Linked DNA regions of Homo sapiens. The protein of the gene in region 1 interacts with the protein of each later gene in a pairwise test. Each region holds a gene or a part of one and is shown in the gene's direction. Other genes may lie near its edges. The genes, in order: NEK6, RIMBP3, CEP76, DLST, KATNBL1, XIAP and IKZF3.

The links.
Region 2: the proteins of NEK6 (region 1) and RIMBP3 interact in binary tests that used the Homo sapiens proteins (3 or more experiments, as listed by UniProt).
Region 3: the proteins of NEK6 (region 1) and CEP76 interact in binary tests that used the Homo sapiens proteins (3 or more experiments, as listed by UniProt).
Region 4: the proteins of NEK6 (region 1) and DLST interact in binary tests that used the Homo sapiens proteins (3 or more experiments, as listed by UniProt).
Region 5: the proteins of NEK6 (region 1) and KATNBL1 interact in binary tests that used the Homo sapiens proteins (3 or more experiments, as listed by UniProt).
Region 6: the proteins of NEK6 (region 1) and XIAP interact in binary tests that used the Homo sapiens proteins (3 or more experiments, as listed by UniProt).
Region 7: the proteins of NEK6 (region 1) and IKZF3 interact in binary tests that used the Homo sapiens proteins (3 or more experiments, as listed by UniProt).

Annotation. Positions count from the first base shown.
Region 1 is NC_000009.12:124,309,949-124,313,448, forward strand, and holds part of NEK6 (serine/threonine-protein kinase Nek6), read left to right. Parts: intron 1-2,560; coding exon 2,561-2,701; intron 2,702-3,500. UniProt on the Homo sapiens protein: Protein kinase which plays an important role in mitotic cell cycle progression. Required for chromosome segregation at metaphase-anaphase transition, robust mitotic spindle formation and cytokinesis.
Region 2 is NC_000022.11:18,609,120-18,613,152, reverse strand, and holds the start of RIMBP3 (RIMS-binding protein 3A), read left to right. Parts: upstream 1-1,233; 5' UTR 1,234-1,718; coding exon 1,719-4,033. UniProt on the Homo sapiens protein: Probable component of the manchette, a microtubule-based structure which plays a key role in sperm head morphogenesis during late stages of sperm development.
Region 3 is NC_000018.10:12,682,224-12,685,723, reverse strand, and holds part of CEP76 (centrosomal protein of 76 kDa), read left to right. Parts: intron 1-3,500. UniProt on the Homo sapiens protein: Centrosomal protein involved in regulation of centriole duplication. Required to limit centriole duplication to once per cell cycle by preventing centriole reduplication.
Region 4 is NC_000014.9:74,898,916-74,901,579, forward strand, and holds part of DLST (dihydrolipoyllysine-residue succinyltransferase component of 2-oxoglutarate dehydrogenase complex, mitochondrial isoform 1 precursor), read left to right. Parts: intron 1-1,007; coding exon 1,008-1,081; intron 1,082-1,373; coding exon 1,374-1,457; intron 1,458-2,150; coding exon 2,151-2,318; intron 2,319-2,664. UniProt on the Homo sapiens protein: Dihydrolipoamide succinyltransferase (E2) component of the 2-oxoglutarate dehydrogenase complex. The 2-oxoglutarate dehydrogenase complex catalyzes the overall conversion of 2-oxoglutarate to succinyl-CoA and CO(2).
Region 5 is NC_000015.10:34,200,097-34,203,596, reverse strand, and holds part of KATNBL1 (KATNB1-like protein 1), read left to right. Parts: intron 1-3,500.
Region 6 is NC_000023.11:123,866,553-123,870,052, forward strand, and holds part of XIAP (E3 ubiquitin-protein ligase XIAP), read left to right. Parts: intron 1-3,500.
Region 7 is NC_000017.11:39,760,266-39,763,312, reverse strand, and holds part of IKZF3 (zinc finger protein Aiolos), read left to right. Parts: 3' UTR 1-3,047. UniProt on the Homo sapiens protein: Transcription factor that plays an important role in the regulation of lymphocyte differentiation. Plays an essential role in regulation of B-cell differentiation, proliferation and maturation to an effector state.

The DNA of each region.
Region 1 (3,500 bases):
TTTTGAAGAGGCCGGTGGCGGGTCCTGGGGCGGGGCCTGGGGCAGGGCTCAGGTGACTGAAAGAATGGAGGCTGGAGCAGGAAGTGGCAGGCCTGGCCGGTCAGGGGGTCTTGAGTGAAAAGCCGAGGAGGGATCTGAGCTGAGAGCCCACCCGATACGGAGCAAGAGCTTGGGCACCACAGTCCCCAGTCCTGGGGTCACACCCCAGCTCTGCTGTTCTTTGCTGCCTGATCAGAACAGGTCACTGCTACCCCTCCAAGCCTCAGATTCCTGAAATGGGGACAGCAGTGAGGCCCACTCACAGGGTTGTTCTGAGGACCCAAAGAGTGGGCGCGTGGGCGGTGTCTGCACAGAGCCCAGCATGCAGTAGACACTCAGGATGCCTGCTCTTCTTAGGTGGGTGCTCTGTGTACAGGTGTATTTACCCGACAGACATTGGCACATGGTGGATAAAATCATCATCTTCCTCCTCCAGCAGCCCTCCAGATCGGGTCCTCTGGCAGGACCCACCATGAGAGGTAATTAGGCCTCGAGGCTTCAAAGTCAAGGTTGGCCCAGCCCTCACCTTGCTGTGTGCTGTGAGGCCTGGACTCCCATCACTCACTCCCGCAGGAGGGTGTTCTGTAGAGTTCCCTCAGCCAAATCTGGAAGAGACATTTTCTTTTTTTTGAGATGGAGTCTCACCGTCACCCAGGCTGGAGTGCAGTAGCACGATCTAGGCCAACTGCAACCTCCGCCTCCCAGGTTCAAGCAATTCTCCTGCCTCGGCCTCCCAAATGGCTGGGATTTACAGGCACCCACCACCACACCCGGCTAATTTTTGTGTTTTTACAAAAATTTTTTGGCCAGGCTGGTCTCAAACTCCTGACCTTAAGTGATCGCCCGCCTCGGCCTCCCACAGTGCTGGGATTACAGGCGTGAGCCACTGCGCCTGGCCTAGAAGAGACATTTTCACTTTACTTTTTTCCCTGCTTTTCCAGTGAGTTTCTATTATTCATTAAGTCATGATTCAGGGTCCCAGAGTAGGGATCACCACATAACCAGGTTCCCCTCAGGCACTCTGGGAGAAGGACAGAGGAGAAGTTGATGGACCCAGCTTAGACCTGCCCAGGAGACGTGCCCCTGCTCCGCAGGCATCTCAGGCTGAGACGCAGCTGGTCCGGCCAGCAGTTCCTGGTGTTTCCAGGTGGGGAAGCAGCTGTCAGAAGGGCCAGTCCTGTAGTTCTCGGTTTGGTCTTGATGCCTTCCGCCAGGGTGCTGGCTCCTAAAGACGCCTCGGTACGGTGCCCGGCTCAGTGTGACCCTCACCAAAGACCCACTTCATGCTAGAAAGTTGAACTGCTTGTTCTGGCTTCACTAGGGGCGGTGGCATGGAGCTGGGTGATGTGGGCATGGCTGGCCCCTCTGGGCCTCAGTTTCCTCATCAGGCAAATGGAGACACAGCCGGGCCCATCTCACCATAGGGCAGGCCAGAGATGTGGCATCCTCTCCCCTTGTCTGTCTCCTCCTTCCCTGGCCCACTGTTGGCGCCCCCTCCTGCCTTTTCCTGAGAGCTCACTGCACAGGTGTCCTGGGGTCCTCCTGGCCACTGTGGTCTCACCTGGAGGCTCCATCCCTGGGCAGGTCCTAGCGCAGGATCATGTGTTCCAATGCTGGCCCCTGCAGAGTCTTTGTGGAGCTCTGGTTTCTTCACGACACCCTAAAAAAGGCAGTTTATCTAAAGGATGGGCTCAGGGTGTAAGGCTGCACATTTTTTTGAGAGGGGGACAGAGTCTCCATCACCCAGGCTGGAGTGCAGTGGCATGATCTCTGCTCACTGCAACCTCTGCCTCCTGGGTTCAAGCGATTCTCATGCCTCAGCCTCCTGAGTAGCTGGAATTATAGGCATGGGCCACCACACCCAGCTAATTTTTATATTTTTAGTGGAGACAGGGTTTCGCCATGTTGGCCAGGCTGGTCTCGAACTCCTGACCTCTCGAACTCCCGCCTCAGCTCCCAAAATGCTGGGATTACAGGCGTGAGCCACCACACCTGGCCAAGGCTATGAATATTAACCTTGGTTTTCTTGTCTGAGATGGGGAACGGCTGCCCCAGGAAGGGAACTTGCCATTTCTTATGATGACCTGGGGCATTTTGCATGGTGGCCACGGGCTGGGGATACATGAGCTGCACCCGGCTTACCGGACCCCAGTTTGGGCATCAAGGATTCAGGAGAGGATGAGACGGGCAACGCCCGTGGTCCCACGGAGCTAGCCCCCAGGGATGGGACTCAGAGACAGCAAACAAACAAGCAGTCAGACAATGAAGGTGGTGATGAGGGCAGTGGGGAGCATGAACAGCCTCAGTTTTTCACCTGCACTGGGGGTCCTTGAGGGGACCCAGGGGACCCTGTGCAGAAAGCCCCCTGGGGGGGTGCCTGGGAGGCTCCCAGAGCAGGGTTGGCAGCAGAGTCCCTCCTTCACCTTAGAGGGTGCTGTTGGGGTGCTGGGCCTCTAGGGGTCGTCCCCAGGCCTCTGCTGCAGCCTGGCTGCTCACGGAGGCCCTCTGTCCCCCGTTCCAGAGGCATCCCAACACGCTGTCTTTTCGCTGCTCGCTGGCGGACTTCCAGATCGAAAAGAAGATAGGCCGAGGACAGTTCAGCGAGGTGTACAAGGCCACCTGCCTGCTGGACAGGAAGACAGTGGCTCTGAAGAAGGTGCAGGTGAGCTGACAACCCGTGGGGTCAAACCTGCATCTCGGGAGGTGGTCTCTGCATCTGGACGGGGTGCCCGGGCCAGTCCCTTCTCTCCCCTCTTCTGTGAACGAGGGAAACAGCACTCAACTCACTGGGTTACAGAGAGAACCAGGTGGACTCCTATTGATGAAAGTTCACTGTGAACTGCAAAGGAAAAGAAAAACGAGCATGCATTGAGCGCCTGCTGTGTACTGGGTCATGCAAGGAGCACATGGAGCCTCTCAACAGTCCCGTGGGTGGGGATTGTCATTTCATCTCTCAGATGAGGAAAATCTCATAACCGCCAGGGCCCCAGCATGAGTCTTGGGGGAGCTGAGGTTCATACCATGTCCACCCATCCTTGCGCCTGCGGTTGCTCCACAGTTCTGGGCTTCCTGCCTTCTGCGTCCCTCCTAAATGGAGGAAGTAGGTCAAGCGGCAAAGTCAGGACAGGAGCCATGTCCATGAGAGCCGCTGGGCCCGTCTGAACACAGCTTTGCCGGAGGAAATGGCTTTAAATCCTCCAGCAAAGCTTCCCAAGCCCCTTGATTTGCTTACTTGTCCTTAAAGAACAAGATTGAGAGCCTGGGCAGAGGAGGGCCGGGAGAGAGAATGGCGTTGGGGAAATGGGGAGAGAACACCCGCAGCTTCAGGGCGCTGGAGGAGTAGCAGGGTCCTCTCTGTCCAAAAAAGGACCAGTTTCTCTCTTGATCTTGTTTTTTTTTTGAGATAGAGTCTCAGTCTATCACCCAGGCTGTAGTGCAGTGGCGTGATCAGCTCACTGCAA
Region 2 (4,033 bases), on another chromosome or scaffold:
CTTGTTACTTGACACTGCCTAAAGGCATGTTCTGTGGGTTCCGGGGAAACTGATTTGAAAAACTTGAGTGTTGTAAAGGAGGGCCATAAGCTGAGTGAACACAGCAGTTGTGAGAGGTCCCAGGTGCTTCCTGGGGACAGGGAGACACGACAGACCAAGAAGCAAAGGGGCCTCTGATGTGACTTCAATATCAAGGTCTTGTCGGGCACAGTGGCTCATGCCTGTAATCGCAGCACTTTAAGAGGCCGAGGCGGGTGGATCACTTGAGGTCAGAAGTTCAAGACCATCCTGGCCAACATACTGAAACCCTGTCTCTACTAAAAAGTACAAAAAATTAGCTGGGCATGGTGGCTCAAGCCTGTAATCCCAGCTACTTGGGAGGCTGAGGCAGGAGAATCTCTTGAACGTGGAAGGTAGAGGTTGCAATGAGCCAAGATTGCGCCACTGCACTCCAGCCTGGCGACAGAGTGGGGCCCCATCTCAAAAAAAAAAAAATCAATGTCTCGATGCAGACTGCCAGGTATCAGGTGTCCATCCATGTCTCCCAAAAGCCACTTGGCACCAGGAGCAGACAGGAAGGGCAAAGAGGAGCCAGACTGAAGCAGGGCTTCTTAGCTCCCAAGCCACACAGGTGGCCACCAGTCAGAGAGGCAGTGTGTGTGTGTGTGTGTGTGTGTGTGTGTATTTCTTCAGTTCAGTGTGTGTATGTATGTTTCTTCTGCAGCTCAGTGTATGTGTGTATTCCTTCAGCTCAGTATGTGTGTGTGTGTATGTTTCTTCTGCAGCTGTGTGTGTGTGTGTGTGTGTGTGTGTGTGTGTGTGTGTGTTTCTTCTGCAGCTCAGGATGCCTCCAACATTTCTGCTGAAGCCTCACCCTCACTCCTGGCCCATCCTGAGGCCTCTACCTAAGATGCCAATGAGTAGCCCAGACACTGGGGCTCCAGTGTTTGTCACCAGGTGGTACCTGGATGTGGGAGGTAGACAGGCCAGATGGCCAGTTTGGGCAGTGCCCCTCATGCCTATCTGGCCCTGGGTCCCTATGCCACCTTGCTGGGGAGGGTCTTTTCGCTTACACCTCCTCTGAGCCGACTCTGCGCAGTAACACAAATGTGTATCAGGCACATCCTTTCCTCAAAAGGTGGATGACCAGTTGGGTGATCAGGGCTGTTAGGGGGCTGAAGGGTCCTGGGGAGTCCAGGTCTAGCCAAGTTGAGGCCTATCCTGCTGCATTTTCCAGCCACCTGACCCAAATACACCACCTGAACCCACGACCAGGTATGCCCACACCCCATGGGTGGCCTTAACACACACACCCTGCCCCTTTCTCCAAGTACAGGAGCAGCAGCCCAGACTTCCCTCGGGGCACCGCGGCCTGCTTGGGACTGCACAGTGCCTGGGAGGGTGCCTGGGGAGGGTCACAAGGGACTTGGTGCTAGAAGCAGGAAAAGTGTAGGGACCGGAAAAGCCCCCGTGCATCCTGGAAGGGACATGGGCCAGTTTGAGCAGGGGTGTGGGAGTCCAGCCCTGGCCTTGCCAGGTGGAGAGGCGCCTGGGCCAGACATCCGCGGCAGGAGGCGGGGGAACATGCCAAGAGGCGGAAGGGGCACGCGGAGACCCCCAGGGGGCGCCGGAAGGGGCGCGCCGGGCGGTCGGCGGCGGCCGTTGGCGAGCTGAGGCCTGCCAGGCGAAGTCTGGAGACCAGCCGGGCCGCGGCCGCAATGGCCAAGGACTCGCCCAGCCCCTTGGGCGCGTCGCCCAAGAAGCCGGGCTGCTCCAGCCCGGCGGCGGCAGTGCTGGAGAACCAGAGGCGGGAGCTGGAGAAGCTACGGGCGGAGCTGGAGGCGGAGCGGGCAGGCTGGCGGGCGGAACGGCGGCGCTTCGCTGCCCGGGAGCGCCAGCTGCGTGAGGAGGCCGAGCGGGAGCGGCGACAGCTGGCTGACCGTCTGCGCTCCAAGTGGGAGGCACAGCGCAGCCGGGAGTTGCGGCAGCTGCAAGAGGAGATGCAGCGGGAACGCGAGGCCGAGATCCGGCAGCTGCTGCGCTGGAAGGAGGCCGAGCAGCGGCAGCTGCAGCAGCTGCTGCACCGGGAGCGCGATGGCGTGGTGCGCCAAGCCCGGGAGCTGCAGCGCCAGCTGGCCGAGGAGCTGGTGAACCGCGGCCACTGTAGCCGCCCGGGGGCGTCCGAGGTTTCCGCGGCGCAGTGCCGCTGTCGCCTGCAGGAAGTGTTGGCGCAGCTTCGCTGGCAGACTGACGGCGAGCAGGCGGCGCGCATCCGCTATCTGCAGGCGGCGCTGGAGGTGGAGCGCCAGCTCTTCCTCAAGTACATCCTGGCGCACTTCCGCGGGCACCCGGCTTTGTCGGGATCACCGGACCCCCAAGCTGTGCATTCCTTGGAAGAACCGCTGCCCCAGACCTCCAGCGGCTCTTGCCACGCCCCCAAACCCGCCTGCCAACTCGGATCTCTAGACAGCCTGAGTGCTGAAGTCGGTGTGCGCTCCCGCTCGCTAGGCCTGGTGTCCTCTGCGTGCTCCAGCTCCCCAGACGGCCTGCTCTCCACGCACGCCAGCTCCCTTGATTGCTTCGCACCTGCGTGTTCCCGCTCGCTTGACAGCACCCGGAGCCTCCCCAAGGCCTCCAAATCCGAGGAGCGGCCCTCCTCACCAGACACCTCCACCCCTGGCTCCCGGAGGCTCTCGCCGCCACCATCGCCACTCCCGCCGCCACCACCACCGTCAGCCCACAGGAAACTCAGCAACCCGCGGGGAGGAGAAGGCTCTGAGAGCCAGCCCTGCGAAGTCCTGACTCCCTCACCCCCGGGCCTGGGCCACCACGAGCTGATAAAGCTGAACTGGCTGCTGGCCAAGGCGTTGTGGGTGCTGGCGCGCCGCTGTTATACCCTGCAAGCGGAGAACAAGCAGCTGCGGCGTGCAGGCTGCCCCTACCAGGCAGACGAGAAGGTGAAGCGGCTCAAGGTAAAGCGCGCGGAGCTGACCGGGCTCGCGCGGCGCCTAGCTGACCGCGCCCGCAAGCTGCAGGAGACCAACCTCCGGGCCGTGAGCGCGCCTATACCCGGCGAGAGTTGCGCCGGCCTGGAGCTGTGCCAAGTCTTTGCCCGCCAGCGCGCTCGGGACCTGTCGGAGCAGGCGAGCGCGCCGCTGGCCAAGGACAAGCAGATCGAAGAGCTGCGGCAGGAGTGCCACCTCCTGCAGGCGCGTGTCGCCTCGGGTCCCTGCAGCGACCTGCATACTGGAAGGGGCGGCCCCTGCACCCAGTGGCTCAACGTCAGAGACTTAGACCGCCTGCAGCGCGAGTCCCAGCGGGAAGTGCTGCGCCTGCAGAGGCAGTTGATGCTTCAGCAGGGCAACGGTGGCGCTTGGCCCGAGGCGGGCGGCCAGAGCGCAACCTGCGAGGAGGTGCGACGGCAGATGCTGGCGCTGGAGCGCGAGCTGGACCAGCGGCGGCGCGAGTGCCAGGAGCTGGGCGCGCAGGCGGCCCCGGCGCGGCGACGTGGCGAGGAGGCCGAGACACAGCTGCAGGCGGCGCTGCTCAAAAACGCCTGGCTGGCGGAGGAGAATGGGCGGCTGCAGGCCAAGACCGACTGGGTGCGGAAGGTGGAGGCTGAGAATAGCGAAGTGCGCGGCCACCTGGGCCGCGCGTGTCAAGAGCGCGATGCCTCCGGCTTGATCGCCGAACAGCTGCTGCAGCAGGCGGCGCGCGGGCAGGACAGGCAGCAGCAGCTGCAACGCGACCCGCAGAAGGCCCTGTGTGACCTCCATCCTTCCTGGAAGGAGATACAGGCGCTCCAGTGTCGGCCTGGTCACCCTCCTGAACAGCCCTGGGAGACCAGTCAAATGCCGGAGTCCCAAGTTAAAGGTAGCAGAAGGCCCAAGTTCCACGCACGGCCTGAAGACTACGCAGTGTCACAGCCCAACAGAGACATACAGGAGAAAAGGGAAGCCTCCCTCGAGGAGAGCCCAGTTGCCCTTGGGGAGTCAGCCAGTGTCCCCCAAGTTTCAGAGACAGTCCCTGCCAG
Region 3 (3,500 bases), on another chromosome or scaffold:
GGAGGCGGAGGTTGCAGTGAGCTGAGATCGCACCATTGCACTCTAGCCTGAGGACAGAGCAAGACACGTCTCAAAAAAAAAAAAAATACTATTTTATATAAGCCTTGAGTATCCACGGATTTTGTTTTGCAAGGGTCCTGGAACTAACCGCTTTGGGGTGCTATCAGCTTGACCACGTCAGAACCTTGTTCTGTTTTTCATAACATTTAAATATCAATACACAAAAAACTCAGCATCTTTATTTTCTCATGTAGTTTCTTATTTATTGTGATTTCTGTGATGTAGGGACCTACAAGTACTAAAATGTCAGAAATCAAGTTGCAGAATGAATTAGGAACAGCACCAGGACCAGACCATGGCTTTCTGGTACTACTGATGTGTTGCAATTTGCTCAGATAATACATCTTTAAAAAAGAGAAAATAAGGCTGGGCGTGGTGGCTCATGCCTGTAATCCCAGCACTTTGGGAGGCAGAGGTGGGTGGATCACCTGAGGTCAGGAGTTCAAGACCAGTCTGACCAACGTGGAGAAACTCCGTCTCCACTAAAAGTACAAAATTAGCGTGGTGTGGTGGCACGTGCCTGTAATCTTAGCTACTGAGGAGGCTGAGGCAGGAGAATTGCTTGAACCTGGGAGGCGGAGGTTGTGGTGAGCTGAGATCGCGCCATTGCACTCCAGCCTGGGCAACGAGCGAAACTCCATAAAAAAAAAAGAGAAAATGGCAGTACAAAATTAATATAGAAAAAATATTAAAATAGAAAAAAATCTTGAATTGCATGCTATTTAGTTTGTTTAGTTTGTATTTAAATACAAATGTATATTTAATTACACTTTTTGAATGACTTGATTTTAGTAAACTAATTTTATAGATTATGGGATATTTCCTAATCTGTGTTCTAAAAATGTTGATAGTATGATAACAAACAAGTAAAACTATCTTTAGGCCAGGCGCGGTGGCTCACGCCTGTAATCCCAGCACTTTGGGAGGCCGGGGAGGGTGGATCACCTGTGGTCGGGAGTTCTAGAACAGCCTGGCTAACATGGAGAAACTCCATCTCTACTGAAAAAATACAAAAATTAGCCAGCCATGGTGGCGGGCTCCTGTAATCCCAGCTACTTGGGAGGCTGAGGCAGGAGAATCACTTGAACCTGGGAGGTGGAGGTTGCAGTGAGCCGAGATCACGCCATCGCACTCCAGTGTGGGCAATAAGAGCAAAACTCCATCTCAAAAAAAAAAAACAAAAAACTATCTTTAGCCTGGGTGACAGAGCGAGACTCTGTCTCAAAAAAAATAAATAAAGGTGACAGCAGGCCAGGCATGGTGGCTCATGCCCGCAATTCCAGCACTTGGGTAGGCCAAGGTGGGCAAATCACTTGAGCCCAGAAGTTCCAGACAAACCTGGGCAACATGGCAAAATCCCTCTCTCTAAAAAACTATAAAAATTACCCAGGCATGGGCCAGGTGTGGTGGCTCACGCCTGCAATCCCAGCACTTTGGGAGGCTGAGGCGGGCGGATCACACGGTCAGGAGATCGAGATCATCCTTGCTGATACGGTGAAACCCCATCTCTACTAAAAACACAAAAAAAGGAGAATCACTTGAACCCATGAGGTGGAGGTTGCAGTGAGCTGAGATCGCGCCACTGCACTCCAAACTGGACGACAGAGCAAGACTCTGTCTCAAAAAAAAATACATATATATATGATATCATATATATGATATATATCATATATATATTTAGATTTTTTACTGTACAAACAACAGCATTACAACAGTAATGGTGAAACTTTACCTATAATTCTATTCCTAGTTTATTATTTCTTTTTATATTTTTTCTGCTGTATATGTATCATTTATTTCATAATTATAATTGTAAATAAATTTTTGTATCTTGCTTTATAATTAAGCATTATGCTATGAACATTTTTCTATGTGTTGCTACAGTCTTTCTGATTTCCTTTTTTTTTTAAATGAGACAGAGTTTTCCTCTTGTCGCCCAGGCTGGAGTGCAATGGCATGATCTCGGCCCACTGCAACCTCCGTCTCCTGGGTTCAAGCGATTCTCCTGCCTCAGCCTCCCTAGTAGCTGGGATTACAGGTGCCCGCCACCACCCCCAGCTCATTTTTGTATTTTTAGTAGAGATGGGGTTTCACTGTGTTGGCTAGGCTGGTCTCGAACTCCTGACGTTAGGTGATCTGCCCGCCTCTGCCTCCTAAAGTGCTGATTTCCGTTTTTTAATGAGTGTTTTAAGTTTCCTTGAGTCAATATACAAAATACATTTAACTATTTCCCTATTGTAGGAACTGCCAAGTTAGGCTCTTTTTTTTTTATTCAGTGGTTTTGTTGTTGTTGTTTTCTTTTGTTTTTGTTTAGGACGGGGTCTCGCTCTGTCGCCCAGGCTGGAGTGCAGTGTCACGATCTCGACTCACTGCAACCTCCGCCTCCCAGCCTCAAGCAATTCTCCTACCTCAGCCTCCTGAGTAGCTGGGACTACAGGCATGGAGCCACCATGCCTGGCTTTTTTTTTTTTTTTTTTGGTATTTTTAGTAGAGATGGGGTTTCTTGGCCAGGGTGGTCTCAAACTCCTGGCCTCAAGTGATCTGCCCGCTTCAGCCTCCCAAAGTGCTGAGATTACAGGCAAAAGCTGGCACACCTGGCCATAAAGTTAAGCTCATTTTAAATTTTTTAATGTTGCCATGAATGAACTTTCACACTGACTATCTTTGCAGATATTTTTATTTTACTTCTGAATTTTCTTTAGGACAAAATCTCAGAAATAATTGGGTCTAAAAGGTTGATTAAGCCAGGCGCAGTGGCTCATGCCTGTAATCGCAGCACTTTGGGAGGCCGAGGTGGGTGGATCACTTGAGGTCAGGAGTTCAAGACCAACCTGGCCAACATGATGAAACTCTCTCTCTACTAAAAATACAAAAATTAGCTGGGTGTGGTGGTGCACGCCTGTAGTCCTAGCTACTCAGGAGGCTGAGAATCATTGGAACCCGGGAGGAGGAGGTTGTAGTGAGCCGAGGTCATGCCACTGCATTCCAGCCTGGGTGACAGAGCGAGACTCTGTCTCAAAAAAGAAAAAAGTAAATTAAAAAATAAAAGATTGGTTATTACATTTTTGTAAAGCCACTTGAAGAACTATAAAATGCTATTTGTTTTCTTACAGTTAATTTTTTTTAAAAAACTTTAGCACCACCAAATCCAATTTTTTGGAGAAAGAAATTTCTTGGCCAGGTAAGGTGGCTCATGCCTGTAGTCCCAGCACTTTGGGAGGCTGAGGCAAGCGGATTGCTTGAGTCCAGGAATTCGAGACCAGCCAGGGCAACTTGGTGAAACCTTGTCTCTACAAAAACACAAAAAATAGCTGGGCCTGGTGATGAGTGCCTGTGGTCCCAGCTATTCAGGAGGCTGAGGCGGGGGAATCACTTGAGCTGGGGACATCAAGGCTGCAGTGAGCTGAGGACGTCAAGGCAGCATTGAGCTGAGATCATGC
Region 4 (2,664 bases), on another chromosome or scaffold:
GGGAGCTTCGGCTTGGCCTCTCATGGACCTGGTGCTTATTTTCTTTCCTTTTTACTTACCTACGTCATTGTAGTGTTGACCTAACAAGCACTTTGTTTTCCTGTTGACACACTTCTCTGTTCCTTGGGAGATTGGAGAGGGGTCAGTGCTACTTTTGCCATCCTCAGCAGTGTCAGGGGCCCTAAAGGTCTAGAAGTAGAAGCCCTAGTCCCTCCTGTTGAGTGGTGCTCTAGGGAGGTAGAAGGCCATCTTTGTTTTGCCCAAATGTATACCTCTTCTTTTTCCCATTCTTCTCATGCCTCCCTGACTGGCTCTCATCTTTTTCAGTGGCCCCCTTCTGCTTGCCCACACATGTAGGCGGCTCTCAAAAGTTCTCGTGGCCTCTTTTTCACATTACATGCTTCCTCTGGATGTCTTATCTAACAATACAACATGGACTTTCTGCGGAAATGATTCCCAAGCCTTTATTTTCCCATTAGTTGCTAGGTGTACATTTTCAGATGCTGGTTTGCCATCTCTTGAGGTAGCATATTTCAAAGCCAGATCACCCCGCTTACTCTTGGATCTCCCCTCTTCCTCTTGTTGAGAGTTGGAAGCAGAGAATGGGTAGTATCTCTATATCCCTTTTCCTTTGCTAATTTGCCCTTTTTTGGAACATTTGTTAACCCTAGTCATTCTCTGCTAAAGGAGGGCTTGACTAGAGCTACTTAACGAGAGTTTAGTGCATACCTATCCTATGGAAGCCAGTGTGTTGAGCCCTTCTTAGGGCTGCCAAAGAAATGGATGCTCCTATGCCCAGGCTCAGTCAGGGACTTGGGAGATACTATACTTGGGATGGGAGTAAGTGGAATGCCAGCTGCCATGCATAATGCAGTGGTGTTCATGGTGGTTGGTCAGCCCACACTGTATCAAGCTCTGCAGATTTTTACTCTGTTAATGCACATATTACCTCATTAGTCTTGGCCTTCCTGGGGAGTTGTATGTAACATGTATTTTCTCTCTCATAGTGATTGACGACACAACCAAAGAGGTGGTGTATAGGGATTATATTGACATCAGTGTTGCAGTGGCCACCCCACGGGTATGTTGGGGCAGGAGGTGGGGAATGTTGGTCTTAGACCCTCACCTTATCTGTGTGAAGGAGATCACACAAGAGAAATCATTTCTTTAATTCTGTATTTTTAGAAGGGAGTTAGTAAAAGTAACCTTTTTTTTCTTTTAAACCATGCCGCATTCTTTTAACACTTTCTGTTAATCACACTGAGTAATGAAGGTATTCTAGGGAGGGCATACCATGGGTTGAATCAAGGGAGTTGTTAACTATAAAAGGTACTATTAATTTGCAACTGAAAACAGCTTTTCACCCCCTTCAGGGTCTGGTGGTTCCAGTCATCAGGAATGTGGAAGCTATGAATTTTGCAGATATTGAACGGACCATCACTGAACTGGGAGAGAAGGTAAAGTAGAAAGATGTATACAAGCTGCTAAGCAGGCGAGGGAAGAGAGCCTTCAGAAGGCTGGGCTCACTAGCAAGCAGTGCTCATGGAAAGTCAAGTGCATAGCCCCTGAGAAAAGCAGTTGCCCATGAGAGCTAAGTATTTTATATATCTGGTGGAGTTTACCATGCTCTGGTAACTGAAATCTCATCAGATGAGACCTGCTAGAAAAGATCATCTTTGAAGTCTTCAACTGTATGAAATTGTGCCTTTTCTCTGGTGGAGCACTGGTCATAGACACCTTAGCCGAACAACTGTCACACGGAAGCTAGCGCTTGTGCCATCGATCTCGATACAAGCTTTCTGGACTTCCTTTGCTTTTTTGTTTTTAGAGGCAGGGTCTCGCTGTGTTGCCCAGGCTGGAGTAGAGTGGTAGAGTCATAGCTTACTGCAGCCTTGCACTCCTGGGCTCAAGCGATTCTCCTGCCTCAGCCTCCCAAGTAGCTGGGACTACAGGTGTGCACCACCATGCCTGGCTAATTCTTAAGTTTTTTATACAGATGGGGGTCTCACTATGTTGCCCAGGTTGGCCTTGAACTCCTGGCCTCAAGCAGTCCTCCTGCCTCGGCCTCCCAAAGCGCTGGGATTATGGACTGACTTTAGGTGAAGGAAACTGGGTTGGCTTGATATTTCAATTATGAAATCTGTTTTTAGGCCCGAAAGAATGAACTTGCCATTGAAGATATGGATGGCGGTACCTTCACCATTAGCAATGGAGGCGTTTTTGGCTCGCTCTTTGGAACACCCATTATCAACCCCCCTCAGTCTGCCATCCTGGGGATGCATGGCATCTTTGACAGGCCAGTGGCTATAGGAGGCAAGGTAGGAACCGTCACTTCTAAGGTCCTAGTGGCTAGGTCTCGATGAAAGGGAAATCCAACTAAATGCTAATTGTAAAACATTAACTATAATTTCAGGCCTAAGTTCCATTTCTTAGTTTCTAATAGCTAAGGCACTGATTATCAAATTGTGGTCTGGATCAGCATCATCTGGGACCTTATTAGAAATGCATATTCTTAGACCCCATCCCAGACTTAAAGAAGAAGTGCAGATGATCCTGATGCATATTCAAGTTTGAGAACCACTGAGCTGAGGAGGCTTGTTTGCTTCTATGGAGTGGGGGATATAGTTGGAAACGTGGTCCCTTGCCCCTGGGAAACAGATGACA
Region 5 (3,500 bases), on another chromosome or scaffold:
GCATAAGCTAATTTCCAGATGGTGATAAATGTGGTGGGGGAAAAATACAGGGTACTGCTATAGAGAATGATTGTAAGTGAGGGTGGGGTTATTCTTGATTGGGTGGTGAGTGTGTGGGAGGAATATTTTAAGCAGAAAGAATGGCTCAGCCACAAAATGGAAATAAGTTTGAAATGTTGAAGGACAGAAGGCCAGTGTGGCTGAAGCATTTAGGAAGCTATTATATAGTCTAAAGGAGTTGGTGGTTTGGTCTAGAATGGTGGTAATGGAAATGGAAAGAAACGGACAGCTTGGGAATATATTATAAAGGCAAAGTCAACAAATTGGATGTAGGTTATTAAGGAAAAAAGAAATCAAGGATGAATCCTTTATTTCAGGCTTGAGAAATTGGAAGGAGGATGGTTCCGTTTACTGAGTTAGGGACTGTTGGGAGGAGCAGATTTGAGAGGGGGGATATTAAGGGTTCTATTTTTAATATGTTAAGTTCAAGAATAGATGACTATTGGATATCCATGTGGAGCTGGCTAGTAGGCAGTTGGAGATTTGAATCCAGAGTTTAGGTGAAACAGTATGATGAGAGATTTTATTTATTTATTTTTATTTTTTTTGAGACAGAGTCTTGCTGTCGCCCAGGCTGGAGTGCAATGGCGTGATCTTGGCTTACTGCAACCTCCGCCTTCCGGGCTCAAGCAATTCTTCTGCCTCAGCCTCCCCAGTGGCTGGGATTACAGGTGCCTGCCACCATGCCCAGCTAATTTTTGTATTTTTAGTAGAGATGGGTTTTCACCGTATTAGCCAGGCTGGTCTCGAACTCCGGACCTCAGGCAATCCGCCCACCTAGGCCTCCCAAAGTGCTGAGATTACAGGCGTGAACCACCGCGCCTGGCCGAGATTTTATTCTTAAATGAAAGTTAATATGTTAATTTTTGTTATAGTTAAGTCTTGGACACAGGAGTCATATTTTCTTGAGCCTGCAAGTGATTCTTCTGTTGGAGAAGAAAGTGTTCCCTGAGAGAGGAGGCATTTTCAAACCTTAATATACGTTCTGATTTCAGCCTAGGAGATATGGTGGTGCCCAACCACTGTAACTGTTGGGGATGTAATATAATCCTCACAAGTTTTGGAACATAAAGGTTTAAGAACCGTTGTTATAAAAAGATTTTGAATGTCTCTAGTATCATTTTTGTTAATTCTTAAAGGATGATCTACCCTTTTTTCCAAGGCTTAGGGTATACTTAACCCTGTTGACTTCTGGTACTGTAGAAATTAGGCACAAGTGTCGTAGGGTGGTGACATTAGTCCAAATAATGAAGATAGAGTTTTTTAATTAATTTATATTAGCTCATCATTTTGAGAGTTGAATACTACTTTATTGGTATATCCTCTCATATGTAGAGAGTCTATTGGTTTTGAAAGTATCAGAAATACCTTTAGTAGGCAAACAAGGGTCAAAAATGATCCTTAAAGTGACAATGTTTTATGTATGTATACATTCATCCCTCATTATCTATGGGCGATTGGTTCCAGGACCTCCCAATGATATCACAATCCGAGGATGCTCAAATCCCTGATATAAAGTGGTGTAGTATTTCCACATAACCTTTGCACATCCTCCCATACACCTTAAATAATTTCTAAATTATTTGTAATATCTAGTACAATGTAAATGCTATGTAAATAGTTGTTATACTGTATTATTGGGGGAATAGTGATGAGAAAAATAAGTCTACATATTCAGTAGAGATGTATTTTTTTTCTAAATAGTTTTGATTGGGAATTGATTGAATCCACAGATGCTGAACCCACGGATACAGAGGGCCAGTTGTATATATATTTTCCATTTCTGAGTCCAAGAAGACAATTAAAACAGAATCAAGTATTTTTTCCTCCCTGTTGAATATTTCCAGAAAATACTGGGTTATTCTAACAGGGAAAGTAAATTGGAATTTGGCGAATTCACCAAAACATGCTAGAATAATCATAACCATCTACTTCTAGGCGTAAGAAGTCCTAAGTCTTCCCAAAGATTCAGGTGTTTTATAGCCATTTAAGAAAATATGTATATAATACTCTAATACATTATAATTAAGTTAAAACATACTTGCACATTATACAAAATTCAAAAGGCCCAAAAGGGAAAAGTCTTCTCCCTTCACCCCCTAGCCACACATATCCTCTCACTAGAAGTGACTTTTGTCCCCAGTTTCTCTCATATCCTTCAAAAGATATTTAGTGAATATACAAGTAGTCCCTCACAGACACACACTTTTTAACCTAAGTGGTAACATAGTGTTTTGCTACCTTACTTTTTTCTCCCTACTTTCCAGTATAAGGCATAGTTATGTTTTTTAAAAAGCCTGTGTAGGTCCACAACTATGGATGGTGATAAACATCTACCTAGTTCTTTAATTTTATTTTCCCATTATTAGTCCCAGTTCCCTAATGTAGTAATCTAAGTGGACTTGATTAAAACTGAGGAAGAGGCCGGGTGTGGTGGCTCAAGCCTGTAATCCCAGCACTTTGGGAGGCCGAGGAGGGCAGATCACGAGGTCAGGAGATCGAGACCATTCTGGCCAACATGGTGAAACCCTGTCTTTACTAAAATACAAAAAATTAGCCAGGTGTGGTGGTGTGCACCTGTAATCCCAGCTACTTGGGAGGCTGAGGCAGGGGAATCGCTTGAACCTGGGAGGCAGAGGTTGCAGTGAGCTGAGATGGCGCCACTGCACTCCAGCCTGGCGACAGAGCAAGACGCTGTCTCAAAAAACAAAACAAAACAAAACAAAAACACTGAGGAAGAGGTAGTAGGAAAGCTAATTCCCACTTGGCATCTCTTTTGTAATTTTTATTTCAGGGTATCTCAGTCATAAGAGAGTTGGAATTCAGTTTGATCCAAATTGATTGAAATGATATAGTATTGTACCCACTGAATCTCCAGACATCTGTCTTTATTTTCATGCTTGATCTGCTTTCCCGAGTTTGACGTTATTTCTCAAATCAGCTTACTGTGGAAAACTGAATTAAGAGAAAGTGGTGGGCGGGGCGTGGTGGCTCACGCCTGTAATCCCAGCATTTTGGGAGGCTGAGGCAGGTGGATCAAGAGGTCAGGCGTTCGAGACCAGCCTGGCCAATATGGTGAAACCCCATCTCTACTAAAAATACAAAAAAAAAAAACAATTAGCTGGGCGTGGTGGCACGCACCTGTAATCCCAGCTACTCAGGAGGCTGAGGCACGAGAATCTCTTGAATGCGGGAGGCGAAGGTTGCAGTGAGCCGAGATGGCGCCACTGCACTCCAGCCTGGGAGACAGAGGAAGACTCCATCTCAAAAAAAAAAGAAGAGAGAGAGAGAAAGTGGTGTGATGAATCATCATTCAGGAAATATTAAACCCTTGAGATATCAACTTTGAGTTGTTCCGAGTAGGTGAGAGGTGAAGCCAGCTGGGTTTCTGGGTTGGGTGGGGACTTGGAGAACTTTTCTGTCTAGCCAGAGGATTGTAA
Region 6 (3,500 bases), on another chromosome or scaffold:
TGTATGATATATATAATATAGTATATAATATATTACATGTATAATATATTATATATAATATATAATACAATATATGTAAAATATATATAATATATAACACAATATAATATGTAAAATATATTACATATATAATATATATATTTTTCAGACAGAGTCTAGCTCTGTCACCCAGGCTGGAGTGCAGTGGTGAGATCTTGGCTCACTGAACCTCCGCCTCCCAGGTTCAAGCGATTCTTCTGCCTCAGCCTCCCAAGTAGCTGGGACTACAGGTGTGCTACCACACCTGGCTTATTTTATTTTATGTATTTATTTATTTTTCTGAGACGGAGTCTTGCTCCTGACCTCATGTGATCTGCCCGCCTCGGCCTCCCAATGTGCTGGGATTCCAGGCATGAACCACCGTGCCTGGCCAGAGATATGTGTTTATTATAGAAAATTTATGAAATAGAATAATGACGATCATATTGTCTACAGGTTGTTTTAATCCCCCCCCCCCCTTCAACATTCTATAGTTAACATTTCTGTTTTTTTTTTTGAGACGGAGTCTCGCTCTGTCGCCCAGGCTGGAGTGCAGTGGTGCGATCTCAGCTCACTGCAACCTCCGCCTCCTGGGTTCATGCCATTCTCCTACCTCAGCCTCTCTAAGTAGCTGGGACTACAGGTGCCCGCCACCACGCCTGGCTAATGTTTTTGTATTTTTAGTAGAGACGGGGTTTCACCATGGTCTCCATCTCCTGACCTCGTGATTAGCCCGCCTCAGCCTCCCAAAGTGCTGGGATTACAAGTGTGAGCCACTGCGCCCAGCAGTCTTTTTTTTTTTTTTGGTTTGGTTTGGTTTTTTAGACAGAGTCTCACTCTGTCCCCCAGGCTGGAGTGCAGTGGCACAATCTCAGCTCACTGCATCTCCGCCTCCTGGGTTCAAGTGATTCTCCTGCCTGAGCCTCCTGAGTAGCTAGGATTATAGACATGTGCTACCACGCCCGGCTAATTTTTGTATTTTTAGTGGAGGCATGGTTTCCCCATGTTGGCCAGGCTAGTCTTGAACTCCTGACCTTGTGATCCGCCCGCCTTGGCCTCCCAAAGTATTGGGATTACAGGTGTGAGCCCCCGTACCTGGCCTTTTTTTTTTTTTTTTTTTGAGACGGAGTTTTGCTCATGTTGCCCAGGCTGGAGCGCATTGGTGCAATCTCAGCTCACTGCAACCTCTGCCTCCTGGGTTTAAGTGATTCTCCTGCCTCAGCCTCCCAAGTAGCTGGGATTACAGGCGCACGCACAACCATGCCCAGTTAATTTTTCTATTTTTAGTAGAGATAGTGTTTTACCATGTTGGCCAGGCTGGTCTCGAACTCCTGACCTCAGGTCATCCACCTGCCTTGGCCTCCCAAAGTCCTGGGATTACAGGCATGAGCCACTGCGCCCAGCCTGAAGTCTTTCAAAATACATTTTTTATTTATCCAGTGTATTATTTTATACTGCACTTTCTTCATCTGTAAAGTAACAGGGTCAGGCATGGTGACTCATACCTGTAAGCCCAGCACTTTGGGAGGCTGAGGTGGGAGGATTGTTTGAGACCAGCCTGGGCAACATCGTGAGACCCCGTCTCTACCAATAATAAAAAAATTAGCTGGATGTGATGGCACGCGCCTGTGAAGATCGCTTGAGCCCGGGAGGTCAAGGTGGCAGTGAGCCATGAGGGCACCACTGCATTCTAGCCTGAGTGACAAGAGTGAGGCCCTGTCTCAAAACAAACAAACAAGCAAACAAACAAACAAAAAACCCAGGGTGGCTGGGCTTAAGGACTAGTTGATTCCAACGATTCAAAACCCATTATAATAGTTTTTAAGCCTGATTATCTGAGATTTTGTCAAGGAAAAAAATTCCACATAACAATCCCAGGCCAGGCATGGTGGCTCATGCCTTTAATCCCAGCACTTTGGGAGGCCAAGTCAGGGAGATCCCTTGAGTCCAGGAGTTCAAGACCAGCCTGGGCAACATGGTAAAATGCTATCTCTACTAAAAATAGAAAAATTAACTGGGCATGGTTGTGCGTGCACCTGTAATCCCAGCTACTCTGGAGGCTGAGGTGGGAGGATCACTTGAGCCCAGGAGGTGGAGGTTGCAGTGAGTCAAGATCAGGGCACCCCATTCCAGCTTGGGGGACAGAGCAAGACCCTATCTCAAAAAACAAAAACAGGAATTTGAGGCCAAATTTATGGATTATATATTTTATCTGCTCTGTATGTGGTTAATAATAGGTTATCCTTTATATGATAAAAACATACTTATGTCCATTTTGCAGGACTTGGCATGGGCTTTTATTGTTTTAAATTGTGATACATTTGTAGCTCTGCTGTTTGATACATTTTGGGATTTGATTTTGGTATGATTTGGTACCCAGTCTTTGTTATGGATACATGTGATTCACCTTGTTATGATATAGTTTTATGTATTTTCGAGGATATGGGTCATAGTGAAAAGTCACGTTTACCTGTACAGACTGAGAATAGCTTGATCTCAGATGGTCAGATGTTGAACCAAGTGGATTAAAGCTGATTTCTTAAACCGGACAAGGCTGCTGCCATTGTGCATTCCCTGGTACTTATAAAATATTATGGTTTGAAATTTTATTCTTATTTCTGTAATCATCTTATTCACCTTAAATACAGAAATACAGACATCTGGCTGGGCGCAGTGGCTCACACCTGAAATCCCAGCACTTTGGGTGGCCGAGGCAGGTGGATCACTTGAGGTCAGGAGTTCAAGACCAGCCTGACCAACAGAGCAAAACCCCATCTCTACTAAAAAAATACAAAAAAAAAAAAAAAAAAAAAAGCTGGGTCATGCCTCTGCAATCCCAGCTACTTAGGAGGCTGAGGCAGGAAAATTACTTGAGCCTGGGAGGTGGAGGTTGCAGTGAGCTGAGATCATGCCACTGTACTCCAGCCTGGATGACAGAGTGAGACTCCATCTCAAAAATAAAGAAAAGAAAAAAAAAACACAGACATCTCAGCATATATTACCATGTGACTTAACCTTTCTATGGTTCTAGCTAATTTTTTAGGCCTTGAAAGGGAAGGAAGCCTAACATTTTCTGCTACCTCATTGGACTGTCCCTTCTGCCAGTAATCCTTGTAGTAATTTCCTTAGACCTATATTGGTCATAATCACTGGGTGCATGACCTTTGATGAGTAACAGTCAGAACTACTGTTTCCTCATATTTCAGATGAGGCCTATGATATATTATGTAGGTTAAATTAGATTCCATATATGAAAACATTCTAAATTGTAAAGCACATTACATATGTTAGTTATTATCAAAGGTAACATCGTGAAAGAAGAGAAGATGAGCTATAGAATCACACAAGCCCATGCTTAAATTTTGACCTTACATTAAACCAAAGAGGATTGATTTTTTTTTTTAATTGAGACGGAGTCTCGCTCTGTCGCTCAGGCTGGAGTGCAGTGGCGCAATCTCAGCTCACTGCAACCTCTGCCGCCC
Region 7 (3,047 bases), on another chromosome or scaffold:
GTCTATGTGCTGCCAGTAATTAAAATGTTCCACCTCAGACTGCACAAATGGCTTATCCTTCTTTGTGGCATGGCGTCTGTCTCAGGAAAAAAGGTTTTATGAAATTCCATGGCAACAGTCCCAACATGTTTGAGACTTCAGCTAAAGGAATGGATGTATTTTGGTGTGTAGTCTTCAGTATATCACTGTATTTCCGTAATACTAGACTCCAAGCTATGCCAGATTGCTTATTCCCTTTGTGAAAGAGGAGTTGCTCATTACGTTCTTGAAATATCGCACATCCTGTTGGTTCTTCAAGGGACAAGAGAAAGAGAATTTGGAAGCAGGGATTAGTAGAAGAGAAAACGAGGGAAAGGAAGCCTTTCCACCAGATTAGTGTTCAAGTCTTTGCAGAGGAGACCAACTTTTTTTGTTTTCTTTTGTTTTGAGACAGTCTCTCGCTCTGTTGCCCAGGCTGGAGTGCAGTGGCGCGATCTCGGCTCACGGCAACCTCCGCCTCCCGGGTTCAAGCAATTCTCCTGCCTCAGCCTCCCAAGTAGCTGGGATTACAGGTGCTCACCACCAAGCCCGGCTAATTTTTGTATTTTTAGTAGAGACAAGGTTTCACCATGTTGGCCAGGCCAGTCTCAAACTCCTGACCTCAGGTGATCTGCCCGCCTTGGCCTCCCACAGTGCTGGGATTACAGGCATGAGCTACCGCACCCAGCCTGAGACCACCTTTTGCATCTCAAGATTGTGAAACCAAGGCCCATTCCACCAGCCTGGGGACTCTTTTTATAGATATGATCCTCCTTTTTCCTGTGACTAATGAATTTGCTGCATGATTTCTATTCTTCTGAGGTTAGTTTTCTGAGTAAGGTGACCACTCACAAAGGCACTTTCTTTGTGGCATTCTGAGCCTAGATTGGGGCCCATCAATTCCAGAAAAAATTTATGTGTGGAAACTCTGCATCCTTAAGTCTTGAAGTTGAACCAGATATGCAGTGGTTACCATCACACAGATAAACGCTGCCTTCTGTACATACCCCTTATGCTGTACTAATTAACAAACCCCTTGCCAGGGCTGGGGAGGTGAGGGTGAAGGAGAATCTTAGCAGAAGGGCAGAGTCAGGACTTGCATCTGCCACTGCTGGGCACTGAAGCCCTGGAGCAGCTTCAGATAGTACCTGTACTTTCTCATGCAGACTCCCTCTGAACAAGAGCCTTGTAGGCCCCTCTCCTTCATTTCCCACCAGCCTCTTATCAGGCGGGCTTTCCACCATACACCCAGGAGGCCACGGTCTGAGGAACAACCAAACCCATGCAAAGGGCCGGGCGCGATAGCTCACGCCTGTAATGCCAGCACTTTGGGAGGCTGGGGCAGGCAGATCACCTGAGGTTGGGAGTTCGAGACCTGCCTGACCAACATGGAGAAACCCCCATCTCTACTAAAAATACAAAATTAGCCGGGCGTGATGGCACATGCCTGTAATCCCAGCTACTCAGGAGGCTGAGGCAGGAGAATCGCTTGAACCCGGGAGGCGGAGGTTGCGGTGAGCCGAGATGGCACCACTGCACTCCAGCCTCGGCAACAAGAGCGAAACTCTGTCTAAAACAAAAACAAACAAACAAACAAAAAAACCCAGGCAAAGTTTCCTTGCAGCCAAGGTGACAGAACTGGGCTGAGGGTGGAAAAGAAACAGAACCAGTGCTCCAGGTGTTTTTTAATTTTTTAATTTATTTTTATTTTTTTTGTATATGTATATATATGTATGTATATTTTAGAGGACCAGGGTCTCACTATGTTGCCTAGGCCAGACTCAAACTCCTGTGCTCAAGCAATCCTGCCTCAGCCTCCCAAGTAGCTGGGATTACAGGCATGCACAAACAATGCCCAGCTCTCCAAATGTTTTCTGTCACTACCTGAAGTGTTGCATCGGTACTTCCTACGGAAAGAAAACTAAATAGAAGTGTCTCTCCCGTGAGCCCCCACCACTACCACCAGAAAAAAAAAAGAGAGAAAATGAACTCATCAGTCTTTAGTTTCCTCAAGTTATTCTCCCAAAAAGACATTCGCCTTGGCACAGATAAGCCAGCTAATCTTATGCTTTATGACCCACTGTGAGCTGTTCCTGACACAGCTTCTGACTTTGTCAGTGACAAAATTTCTCACCTTTTAAATGCAGTGCTTAACATTTTGTTAGGCCCATACTCAAAATCGGCCAGATATAAAATGACCTCAGATTTTGATCTCCTAGGCTCAAACAATCCTCCTACCTCAGCCTCCCAAGTAGCTGGGACTATAGGCACACCACCATGCACAGCTAATTTTTTTTGTATTTTTCTGCAGAGATGGCGTTTCGCCATACTGCCCAGGCTAGTCTCAAAATCCTGGGCTCAAGCAATCTGCCCACCTCAGCCTCCCAAAGTGCTGGAACTACAGGCAAGAGCCACTGCGCCCAGCCACAACCTCAGATTTCTTTGGCAAACAGAAATGTTTAAAAACACAAAATTTTGCTCAGGTGAAACACTGTGTTACTATCAAATCTCACATCCACATAAAGTTTTTCTTTTCGGCTTTGTTTCGTGAGGAACAGACAGAACAAAGTTTTTCCAGGTAGCATCTGTATCACTATTATTCTCCTATTTCCTGTACCACCCCCACCTCCCCAAGCCCTACTGAATGTGAGGTTTAGAATGTTTTAAGGAGGGTCAGGTGCGGTGGCTCACGCCTGTAATCCCAGCACTTTGGGAGGCCAAGGCGGGCGGATCACCTGAGTTTGGGAGTTCGAGACCAGCCTGACCAACATGGAGAAACCCTGTCTCTACTAAAAATACAAAATTAGCCAGGCGTGGTGGCACATGCCTGTAATCCCAGCTACTTAGGAGGCTGAGGCAGGAGAATCGCTTGAACCCAGGAGGAGGAGGTTGTGGTGAGCCGAGATCGTGCCATTGCACTCCAGCCTGGGTGACAGAGTGAGACTCCATCTCGAAAAAAAAAATACAAAAATTAGCTGGGTGTGGTGGTGCACACCTGTAATCCCAGCTACTCGGGAGGCTGACGCAGG